Linked DNA regions of Homo sapiens. The protein of the gene in region 3 purifies or fractionates together with the protein of the main gene of each other region. This does not show direct contact. Each region holds a gene or a part of one and is shown on either strand. Other genes may lie near its edges. The genes, in order: FBXO21, ASB3 and ZBTB46.

Region 1 (3,651 bases), on a different chromosome or scaffold from region 3:
AAATATAAAATACCTTTTGAGTTCACACTGGCACTTCTAATTCAAAAATATATGTCTCTGACCTTCTTCTATCTTATATCTATGTCTTCTTTATTCCAGGAGAATTCTGCTTCTCCAGGATATCACAGGTGGTAAAATTAGAATATCACATCGTTATTCATTTACTTCATTCCACATCTCTCTCTCATACACACACACCAGCCCTCAGAATAACAAGACTAATGTTTTCATCACTTTTTTTTTTCTTTTGAGACGGAGTCTCGCTCTGTCGCCAGGCTGGAGTGCAGTGGTGCGATCTCAGCTCACTGCAATCTCCGCCTCCCGGGTTCAACCTAGTCTCCTGCCTCAGCCTCCCAAATAGCTGGGATTACAGGCTGCATCACCACACCAAGCTAATTTTTTTTTTTTTATGTATTTTTAGTAGAGACGAGGTTTCACCATGTTGGCCAGGATGGTCTCAGTCTCCTGACCTTGTGATCCGCCTACCTCAGCCTCCCAAAGTGCTGGGATTACTCATCACTTTTATGATTACTGAAAACAGCTAAATATTTTGCATATGTTCTCCCCCACTGTCCATTCATTTTTTAAAACAGATGCATTGTATTTATACTGACATGTCTTACAGACGTTACACATGAAATATTTTCTCCCCTAGAGCCCTCATTTGAATTTAAATCTAAAAATAAATACATGTTTAGTGCTCACTGCCAGTCCTTATATCAGTGTTTCTCTGTTTTGTTTTTTTTGGGGCGGGGAGTGGTTTTTGGTCATTTGAAATTCATTTTCCAGGAGATCTCTCAGGAAGGACTGAAAAGTCACTGAATTCTTGTTAAGTTGTTAAGTTTCTGTGCAGTCTTTGTATCTGGAAGTCAGTTTGGCTGGATATAAAAATCCTTGGTTGACATTTCCTTAGATCATTGAGTATCTTAAGCTATTTTTTCCTTTGGCACAAAAAATTCTGTTGAAAAGTCTGATGATATTCTTATTTTCTTTTCCTTATAAATGACTTTACCTTTTTTGCTTGGATGCTCAAAGGACTTTCCTGTCTTTAAAATCCAGCAATTTTACTAAAGTATGTCTCAGTATTGGTCATTCTGTGACACTTTTCTCAGGTACAATGTATGAATTTATCTATCTATCTATTTATATCTATCTATCTATCTGAGACAGTCTATCGATCGATCGATCTATCTATCTGAGACAGTCTATCTATCTATCTATCTATCTATCTATCTATCTATCTATCTATCTAATCTAGCTATCTATCTATCTGAGACAGAGTCTCACTTTGCCACCCAGGCTGGAGTGCAGCGGCATAATGTCAGCTCACTGCAACCTCCACTTCCCAGGTTCAAGCGATTCTCTTGTTTCAGCCTCTTGAGTAGCTGGGATTACAGGTGCCTGCCACCATGCCCGGCTAATTTTTTGTATTTTCAGTAGAGACGGCGTTTCTCCATGTTGGCCAGGCTGGTCTCGAACTCCTGACCTCAGGTGATCTGCCCACCTCAGCCTCCCAAAGTCATGGGATTACAGGTGTGAGCCACTGTGCCTGGCCCAGTGTATGCCCTTTTAATATGCTGTTTCTAATCTTTATTGTAGGACATACTCGTTTTTAAGACCACATAGCACATCATAAACACAAACTGATTTCAAGCTGATACTTTGGCATTTATGGAAACTACACTTTTTCCTTCCCATGCTTTCCATATCCAAACCATAAGCATTTGCCAGGAATGAAAACAAACAGGGTCTTCCATGAAAACTGGTATCCCAAAATATTTTTAAATGCGGGGTATTCTATCATTTAAAAACAACCTTATTTGTTTGTTGGCTCACACTTATAGTCCTAGTACTTTGGAAGGCCAAGGTGGGAGGATCACTTGAAGTCAAGAGTTCAAGACCAGCCTGGGAAACATAGTGAGACACTGTCTCTACCAAATAAAAATTAGCCAGGCATGATGGTACATGCCTGTATTCCTAGCTACTCAGGAGGCTGAGGCCAGAGGATCCCCTGAACACAGGATTCAAGGTTACAGTGAGCCATGATTGCACCACTGTACTCCAGCCTGGGCAACAGGATGAAACCCTGTCTCAAAAAAACAAACAGGGCTGGGCGTGGTGGCTCACACCTGTAATCCCAGCACATTGGGAGGCCACAGCAAGAGGATCTTTTTTTTTTTTTTTTTTTTTTTGGACCGAGTCTGTCGCCCAGGCTGGAGTGCAGTGGTGCAATCTCAGCTTACTGCAACCTCAGCCTCCCAGGTTCAAGCAATTCTCCTGTCTCAGCCTCCCGAGTAGCCGGGATTACAGGCGTGTGCCACCATGCCCAGCTAATTTTTGTATTTTTAGTAGAGGCAGGGTTTTACCATGTTGGACAGGCTGGTCTTGAACTCCTGACCTCAAGTGATCAACCCGCCTCGGCCTCTCAAAATGCTGTGATTACAGGCGTGAGCCACCATGCCTGGCTGGGAAGATCTCTTGAGGCCAGGAGTTTAGTAACTGCCTGGGCAACAAAGCAAGACTCCATCTATACAAAAAATAGAAAAAATTAGCCAGGTGTGGTGGCAAGTGCCTGTAGTCCTAACTACTCGGGAGGCTGAGGCAGGAGGGTCACTTGAGCCCAGGGGTTTGAGTCTGCAGTGAGCTATGATTGCGTCACAGCATTCCACCCTGGGTGACAAGAGTGAGACTCTGTTTCTAAAACAAACAATCCTTTTTTAAGGTCAAAATATGTGTGTTGGGTAACCTATTCGTATTTATTTCTAAAAACACTATAATATATGTCTTTACTAGCTATGCATTTTCATCTTTTTTGGGAACCTGATATGTAAAATGGCAGTATCTCATTGCTGTTTAACACTTTTTTTTTTTTGAGACGGAGTTTCACTCTTGTCACCCAGGCTGGAATGCAATGGCGCGATCTCGGCTCACTGCAACCTCTGCCTCCCACGCCTCCCAGGTTCAAGCAATTATCCTGCCTCAGCCTCCCCAGTAGCTGGGATTACAGGCACCTGCCACCATGTCTGGCTAATTTTTGTATTTTTTGTAGAGACAGGGTTTCATCATGTTGGCCAGGCTGGTGTCGAACTCCTGACCTCAGATGATCCAAGGACTTGGCCTCCCAAAGTGCTGGGATTACAGGCGTGAGCCACTGCACCCGGCCTATTTAACACTTTTTGAATAGTGTATTAAAAGTTTTCCGTGATTGTTAGATGTTAGGATTTGTTCTTCTGTGAATGTCATCCTCCTAACCTTTGAACATTTTTCAATATCTCTTGAGTTCTACTGACTTCGTTCATGCTCTCTTGGCCATATAGAAGTGTCTGCTCTTTCACTGTCTCCGCATTGTCCTTCTTGGTTAAGGTGGTCTCCCTTAGACTATACAAAGTCTCCTATTTTCTTGAGGAATGTTCACTGTGATCATTTAAAAATTTCAGTTGTTTCATCCTTTGGAAAAATGTTTGCATATGATGCACGTTTTCCTTTCTTCCAGCTGGATATTCAGTTATGTCCAGTACCATTTCTTTAAAAATCCATTTTTTCCCTCTGAGTTTAAATATATTAAATTATCTTTTATTCTGGGATGCATTTGTCAATTATCCTCTGCTACTGATGCAGCTATTTTTATTGAATCACTGTGCTGTTTGGATT
Region 2 (3,651 bases), on a different chromosome or scaffold from region 3:
CTGCCTCAGCCTCCTGAGTACCTGGGATTACAGGCGCGCACCCCTGTGGCCAGCTAATTTTTTTGTATTTTTAGTAGAGATGGGGTTTCATCGTGTTGGCCAATTTGGTCTCAAACTCCTGACCTTCAAGTGATCTGCCCATCTCGGCCTCACAAGTGAATCAGTTTTTTAAATTTATTGAGATGTGCTTTTTGGCCGAGCATGTGGTCTGTCTTGGAGTATGTTATATGTGCTGTTGAGAAGAATATATATTCTGTGGTTGATGAGTGGAGTGTTCTTTAGATGTGTATTAGGTCCAATTGGTCAAATGTTGAATTTACACCCAGAATTTGTTTTTTAATTTTCTGCCTCAGTGATCTGTCTAATGCTGTCAATGGGATTTGACATCTCCCAACATTATTGCTATCTCTATAGATCTCTAAGAGCTTGTTTTATGAAACTGGATGCTTCAATGTTGGGTGTGTGTATATTTAGGATAGTTAAGTCTTCTCATTGAATTGAACCCTTTATCATTATGTAATTACCTTCTTTGTCCTTTTGTACTGTTGTTGGTTTTTTTATATATAATTTTTTCTTGAATAGAAATGGGGTCTCACTGTGTTGCTGTGAACCCCAAATATCTGAGAGAGATCTCAGTCAATTTAGGAAGTTTATTTTGCCAACATTAAGGGCATGTGCCTGTGACACAGCCTCAGGAGGTCCTGGCAACATATGCCCAAAGTGGTTGGGGCACAACTTGGTTTTATACGTTTTATACATGAGACATCAATCAACATATATAAGATATACATTGGTTCTGTCTGGAAAAGCGGGACAACTCAAAGTGGGGAGAGTATGTCCAGGTCATAGGTAGGTAGGAGACAAATGGTTGCCTTTTTTTTTTTTTTTGAGTTTCTGATTAGCCTTTCCAAAGGAGGCACTCAGATATGCACTTATCCCAGTGAGCAGAGGGATGACTTTGAGTTTGAGTTCTGTCTGTCCTTCGTCCACAGGGAAATTCCTTGTGAGGGAGGTACGTAACTTTTTCTAATCTTAGTAGCTATTTTTTAGGAATAGAATAGGAGGCAGGGTTGCGCTAAGCAGTTCCCAGCTTGACTTTTCCCTTTGGCTTAGTGATTGTGGGGGTCCCAAGATTTATTTTCCTTTCACATTGCCCTGGCTGGTCTTGAACTCCTGAGCTCAAGCGATCCTCCCCCCTTGTAAGAGTTAAAGAAAGAGGAAAGAAACACAAAAGATGGGTTGGCAGTTAAAGACAGGTTTACTTTAGATAAAACCTGAGAAGGGTTTCTGGCTGATTTCGATCAGGAGCACTTTCTCTTACAGGCTAAGTACATGAGTATATATTGGTTTTAGGGTGAGGGGGCTTATCACAAGCTTGGAGTGTTTATGTGTGGGGGAGAAGTTTATGGTGAGGTTGGAATGTCTCTGGGTGAAGGGGGGATTATCTTGGGGCTGACGTCTTTCTAGAAGGAAGGGAGTTATCTCGGGGCTGGCATCTTCCCAGCCAGAGCAGGGCAGCTAGCATGTCTCTGGTCGCAGAGGAGTTTGGCATGTTCCTGGTCGGAGATGCTTTTTTTGTTTATGATCATGCTGATCTTAGCCATTTAGGCTGATGCGCTTTGGATTTAGGAAGTTTTTGATTAAGGTGAATTGGAAAATAACAGTGCTTGTGCAAGATGGTGATACTCCTGCTCTGTCATACTTCGGCCTCTCAAAGCTCTGGGCTTATAGGCGTGAGCCACTGTGCCTGGCTCTGTTGTCTGATTTAAAGTCTGTTTTATCTGATATAAGAATATTGACCCCTGGTTGGGCGTGGTGGCTCACGCCTGTAATCCCAGCACTTTGGGAGGCCGAGGTGGGTGGATCACGAGGTCAAGAGATCAAGACCATCCTGGCCAACATGGTGAAACCCCGTCTCTATCTGCTAAAAATACAAAAATCAGCTGGGCGTGGTAGTGCATGCCTGTAGTCCCAGCTACTCGGGAGGCTGAGGCAGGAGAATTGCTTGAACCCAGGAGGCAGAGGTTGCAGTAAGCCGAGATCGCACCATTGCACTCCAGCCTGGCGACACGGCGAGACTCAGTCTCAAAAATAAAATAAAATAAAATAAAAAACTAGTGACCCCTGACCTTTTTTGTTTTCCATTTGGTTGATAAATCTTTTTTCAACCCTTTACTTTGAGCCTATGGGTGTTGTTACATGTGAGACGTGTCTCTTGAAGGCAGCAGATGGATGGGTCTTTTTTCTTTCTTTTTTTTTTTTTAATCCAAATTGCAGCTGTGTGCCTTTTAGGCAGGATGTTTCGTAAAAGGCGAAAGATTTGTATGATCTGAAGAGACCCTTTACATTCAAGGTTAATATTGATATGTGAGGTTTTGATCCTATTATTAAGTTGGTAGATGGTTGCTTTGCAGTTTCTATTGTATGATTGTATTATGGGGTCTTTGGGCTATGTACTTCAGTGTGTTTTTGTGGTATCAGTGTTGTTCTTTCATTTCCATGTTTAAAAGTCCCTTAAGGATCTCTGCTAAGACTGGTCTAGTGGTAACAAATTGTCTTATCGCTTGCTTGTCTGTAAAATATTTTATTTCTCCTTCGTTTGTGAAGCTTAGTTTGGTGGAATATGAAATTCTTGGTTGTAGTGTCCTCTCTTTAAGAATGCTGAAAATAGACCCCCAATCTCTCTTGCCTTGTAAGGTTTCTGCTGAGAAGTCCACTGTTCCTTTTGTATGTGATCTGACGTTTTTCTCTAGCTGCCTGTAAGATTTTTTCTTTAGTGTTAACCTTCAACAGTCTGGTGACTGTATGCCATGGTGATATTCACGTTCACAGAGAGTTCTCTGTATTGCTTCTATCTGGATGTCTTCCTCTCTGGCAAGATTAGGGAAATTTTCTTAAATTATGTCCTCAAATATGTTTTCCAGGTCATTTACTTTTTCTCCTTCTCTCTCAGGAATACCAATAATTCATAGATTTGGTTGCTTTACATTATCAAATATTTCTCAAAGCCTTTTTCATTAAAAATTTTTTATTTTTATTTTTATCTGACTGGGTTAGTTTGAAAGACTGATCTTCAAGCTCCAAAATTCTTCCTTCTGCTTGGCCTAGTCTATTAATAAAACTTGCAGTTATATTTTGAAATTCCTTAAGTGAGTTTTTCAATTCCAGAAGCTCTGATTGATTCCTTTTTAAGATGTTTATCTTAAGATGCCTTCATTTCCTGAATTGCTTTAGAAGTTTCTTTGTGTTTATTTTCAACCTTGTCTGGATCTTGTTGAGCTTCCTTGCAATCCTTGCTTTGAATTCTTTATCTGTCATTTCTGAGTTTCCATTTGGGTCAGGAACCATTGCGGGAACACGACTGTGATCCTTCAGTGGTGTCACTATATTTAGATTTTTCACAAATCCAAAATTCTTGGGGTAGTTCCTTTTCATCTGGAGATGTTCACACTTCTAATTTTTGTAATTATTTTCATGCAGGTGGGATTTTTTTCTTTTTCTTTCTTTCACTATAATATTATTGTTTTTCCCTTTCACATTTATGATTTTAAATATCAACTCAGAAACCTGTTGAAAGAGACCCTTTTTCTCTGATTGTAGGCATTATTTATCATGCAGTGGTTATGAAGAAAGAGATGTAATAGAGAGTAT
Region 3 (3,651 bases):
CGCGGCCGTGAGGCCTGGACACACTGGGGCAGCTGAGCCCCCGTAACGAGTGAAAGGCTTACTTGAGTCTCGGCTGCTGAACGGCCACCCCGACGTCGGCAGGAAGGACGGCACCGGGGAGCTGGCCCGGCTGTCATCTTCCACCTGCTGTGTGATGTGCCGGACGGTCTCTTTGTTTTTCCGATTCTTCCTTCGGCCCGTGGGCTGCCAGGCATCACCAGCACTCTGCTCTGAGAAAGAGTTCTGTACTGCACCGTCCTTGGCAGAAGGCAGCTCGCTCCCTCCGTACTGAGACGGTGAAACCTGCTCTTCCTTGATGCGCAGAGGCCCGTAGCCCACGTCTCCAGGCCATAGAGGCTGTGAAGAAACATCATCAGGGCCATCGGCCTTGGGCTCCTGATCCTCTTTCCCGTAGCTGCTCCCTCCGTCGTGACAGCTGGCGATGGCCGAGTCTCCGGAAGAATTGGCAGGACTCGTTCGCCGTGCCAGCCACGGGGAGATGCTCCTCCCAGCCATCACGGCCGAGATGAGAGCTTCCGTGCTGCTGCTGGACGAGGCGCCGATCTCGAACTCCGCAAGCTCATCTGAGGCGTCCGACTTGATGCTGATGTCCAGCGCCGCCTTGATGAAGTCGTGGCAGGCTTGCACGATGTCCGTCATCTGCAGGAAGCTGGCGGCTGACATCACCTCGATGACGTTCCTGCTGGTGAGCGCCAGGTGCGCTGAGTACATGAAGTCGATGATGGCCTTGAAGCCCTGGGCCGTGACGATGTCCAGGTGCGTGACCGTGGCCTGCTCCGACGTCTTCTGCACCTGGCAGTAGAGCGTCTTGAAGTAGCGGCTGCTGCCCAGCAGGACGTTCTTGTGCGCCTTGAAGACCTTGCCCTCCACGACCACGCAGACGTCGCACAGGACGCCGTGCTGCCTCTGCTCGTTGAGCTCCCGCAGCAGGTGCCGGTAGTGGGACGTGATTTCCATATCTTCCTTTCGGTTGTTCATTTGGAAGCCCTGGTGTCGCCTCTTCTACAGACTCTGTGGAGGTAAGAACAAGAGTTACCCAAGCTCAGCACAGACAGAGGCCGTGAGAGGACGCCGGGCGGGGCGCAGGAGGGCCATGGGGCACAGAGTGCGGCCAGTGGGAGGACGACCCACGCGAGAGCCCATCCACAGGTGTGCAGCGGGAGGCCTGTGTCTCCGCCTGAAGCAGGGCAGCAAACACCGGAGGGCACCAGTGCGTCCAGGGTGGGACGTCTGCCACGTGTTTCCGTGCTCGAGGCTAATGGGGTTCTGAACAGAATCCCACATACGGCAACTGGCATATCCCAGGAACGATGAGAACACCCAGCCGTGGCTGAGCAACTCTTACCCAAACTGAGAACTCGGTTAAATGACCTACACTGTGGCCATCCCTCACGCTTGAAGAAACATTCTTAAGGAAAAAGAATAAAACTTCCAGGCTGGGCGCGGTGGCTCATGCCTGTAATCCCAGCAATCTGGGAGGCCGAGGAGGGTGGAGCACAAGGTCAGGAGATCGAGACCATCCTGGCCAACATGGTGAAACCCTGTCTCTACTAAAAATACAAAAAAAGCAGCTGGGCATGGTGGCGGGAGCCTGTAGTCCCAGCTATTCAGGAGGCTGAGGCAGGAGAATGGCGTGAACCCGGGAGGCGGAGCCTGCAGTGAGCCGAGATCGCGCCAGTGCACTCCAGCCTGGGCGACAGGGCGAGACTCCATCTCAAAAAAAAAAAAAAAAAAAAAAAACTTCTTACACAAAAAACCACAGAATAAGGAATTAAAGCATTCATAGCCTTAGTCCTGAAAATTTCCAAAACTCTGAGCTCAAACGAGCTGAAGTCTTCTGGAGGAGGGAGGCTTCCTGGCTTAGGCCTGGGTCCCTGCCCAGCACTGGGACAGGGCAGGAGGGAGCTCAGGCCCTGCGGCTGCCAGCGCCCTGGACGTCTGAGACACGACTGGTCTCTGGGTCCCCCTCATCAGAAGACAGCCCTGCCTCACAGAGTCACAGGACACACAGAATCATTTCTGAATTGGGTACACCCCGTCCCGGAGTCTCTCCTGTCTCTCCTTAGACTCAGGGATGTGAGTCCTCCGCCTGTTCTCGTCTGCTGGGGCCGCCCTATCAAGCCTGGGAGGCTCAAACAACAGAAACGTATTCTCAAGTCCAGAATCAGGATGTCGGCCGAGCTGGTGCCTGTTCCAGCCCCTCCCCCAGCCGGCGTTCTGTGTGGAGGCATCGCACGAGCTCTGCCTCTGTCTCAACACGGCTTCTCCCGGTGTGCACGTCTGTGTCCAAATGTCACCCTTTCACAAGGACACCAGTCGTCCGGGAGTAGGGGCCCACCCCCACGGCCTCATCTTAATTAATCATATCCACAGTGACCCTGTTTCCAATAAGGTCACATTCTGGGGTCCTAGGGGGCTAGAACTTCCACAGACAAATCGTAAGGGGACACGTTCACCCCACAGCCCTGCCTGGGAAAGAAACAGTGGTTGGGTCTCTCCCGTTACAAACCCCATTCTCCAGCTGATAAGTCAAGTAGGACTCACCTGAAATGCTAAATGTGTTTAATAGGAGAAAACTAAGCGAGCGTGGGAGTATTACATGTCCTTCCGGCAAGGAGCCCCCACATGCAGCCCTCATGGGGGACGGGGTCGGGGGCTCAGCAGTTTTGTATCACACACTCCTGGGCTCCGACTGGTTACGACATACACACCTTCACTTAGTCATGACAGAATATTTTCTTCTTTTTTTTTTTTTGAGACGGAGTCTCGCTCTGTCCCCCAGGCTGGAGTGCAGTGGTTTGATCTCCGCTCACTGCAAGCTCCGCTCCCAGGTTCATGCCATTCTCCTGCCTCAGCCTCCCGAGTAGCTGGGACTACAGACACCCGCCACCACGCCTGGCTGACATTTTTGTATTTTTAGGAGAGATGGGGTTTCACCATTTTGGCCAGGCTGGTTTCAAACTCCTGACCTCAGATGATCCACCCGCCTCGGCCTCTCAAAGTGCTGGGATTACAGGCGTGAGCCACCACGCCCAGCCTAAAATGTCCTGAGAAAAGTAATTATTCTGTCTCACATTTCACAGGCCGGGAAGATGAGGTAGAAAGGAGAGAGAAGCTTTTGTGCCTGTCTCTGCCTTCAGGGTCCTGGGCCATCCCCTCCTTGGATGGTGTGGGGTTCCCAGGCCCCCACAGCCGGTGTTGCCTGCCGGGAGACGCGCTGCAGAAGACCGGGCCCAGCCTCCCCTTCACTTCCTGCCCGCCGGGCACGAGGGCTGTGACGGCGGTGACCGCTGACCATTACAGGAAGGGCCTCAAGCCCCCAAGATGCCAAGACCAGGCCCCCGCCTGACTCCAGGTGCTGCCTCAACGGCGGCAGAGAACAAAGGCCCCATCCCGCCCCACACTGGCCCCGGGCTTGAGGGCTGGAGGCAAACGCGTGTGGGTGCGAGCAGAACAAGGAGCTGCCGAAAAGGAAGAGATGACATTCGGAGCAGGCTGTGGGGAGGGGGTCATGTGCTGAGGCCGCCCAGTGGTTCTTGACCGGAGAGCATCTCAGAGCCCCAGGAGGGCAGGGCAGGTGTCCCACCAGGCACAGCTTCACCCAGATTAACTAGGCATCGGGGAAGTGAC

Evidence for each region.
Region 1: the proteins of ZBTB46 (region 3) and FBXO21 purify together in Homo sapiens (affinity purification with mass spectrometry, with the first as the bait; one large-scale study listed by BioGRID). This does not show direct contact.
Region 2: the proteins of ZBTB46 (region 3) and ASB3 purify together in Homo sapiens (affinity purification with mass spectrometry, with the first as the bait; one large-scale study listed by BioGRID). This does not show direct contact.

What each region holds. Positions count from the first base shown.
Region 1 is NC_000012.12:117,180,396-117,184,046, forward strand, and holds part of FBXO21 (F-box only protein 21), read right to left. Parts: intron 1-3,651. UniProt on the Homo sapiens protein: Substrate-recognition component of the SCF (SKP1-CUL1-F-box protein)-type E3 ubiquitin ligase complex.
Region 2 is NC_000002.12:53,717,376-53,721,026, reverse strand, and holds part of ASB3 (ankyrin repeat and SOCS box protein 3), read left to right. Parts: intron 1-3,651. UniProt on the Homo sapiens protein: Probable substrate-recognition component of a SCF-like ECS (Elongin-Cullin-SOCS-box protein) E3 ubiquitin-protein ligase complex which mediates the ubiquitination and subsequent proteasomal degradation of target proteins. Recognizes TNFRSF1B.
Region 3 is NC_000020.11:63,789,759-63,793,409, forward strand, and holds part of ZBTB46 (zinc finger and BTB domain-containing protein 46), read right to left. Parts: intron 1,033-3,651; 5' UTR 1,000-1,032; coding exon 63-999; intron 1-62. UniProt on the Homo sapiens protein: Functions as a transcriptional repressor for PRDM1.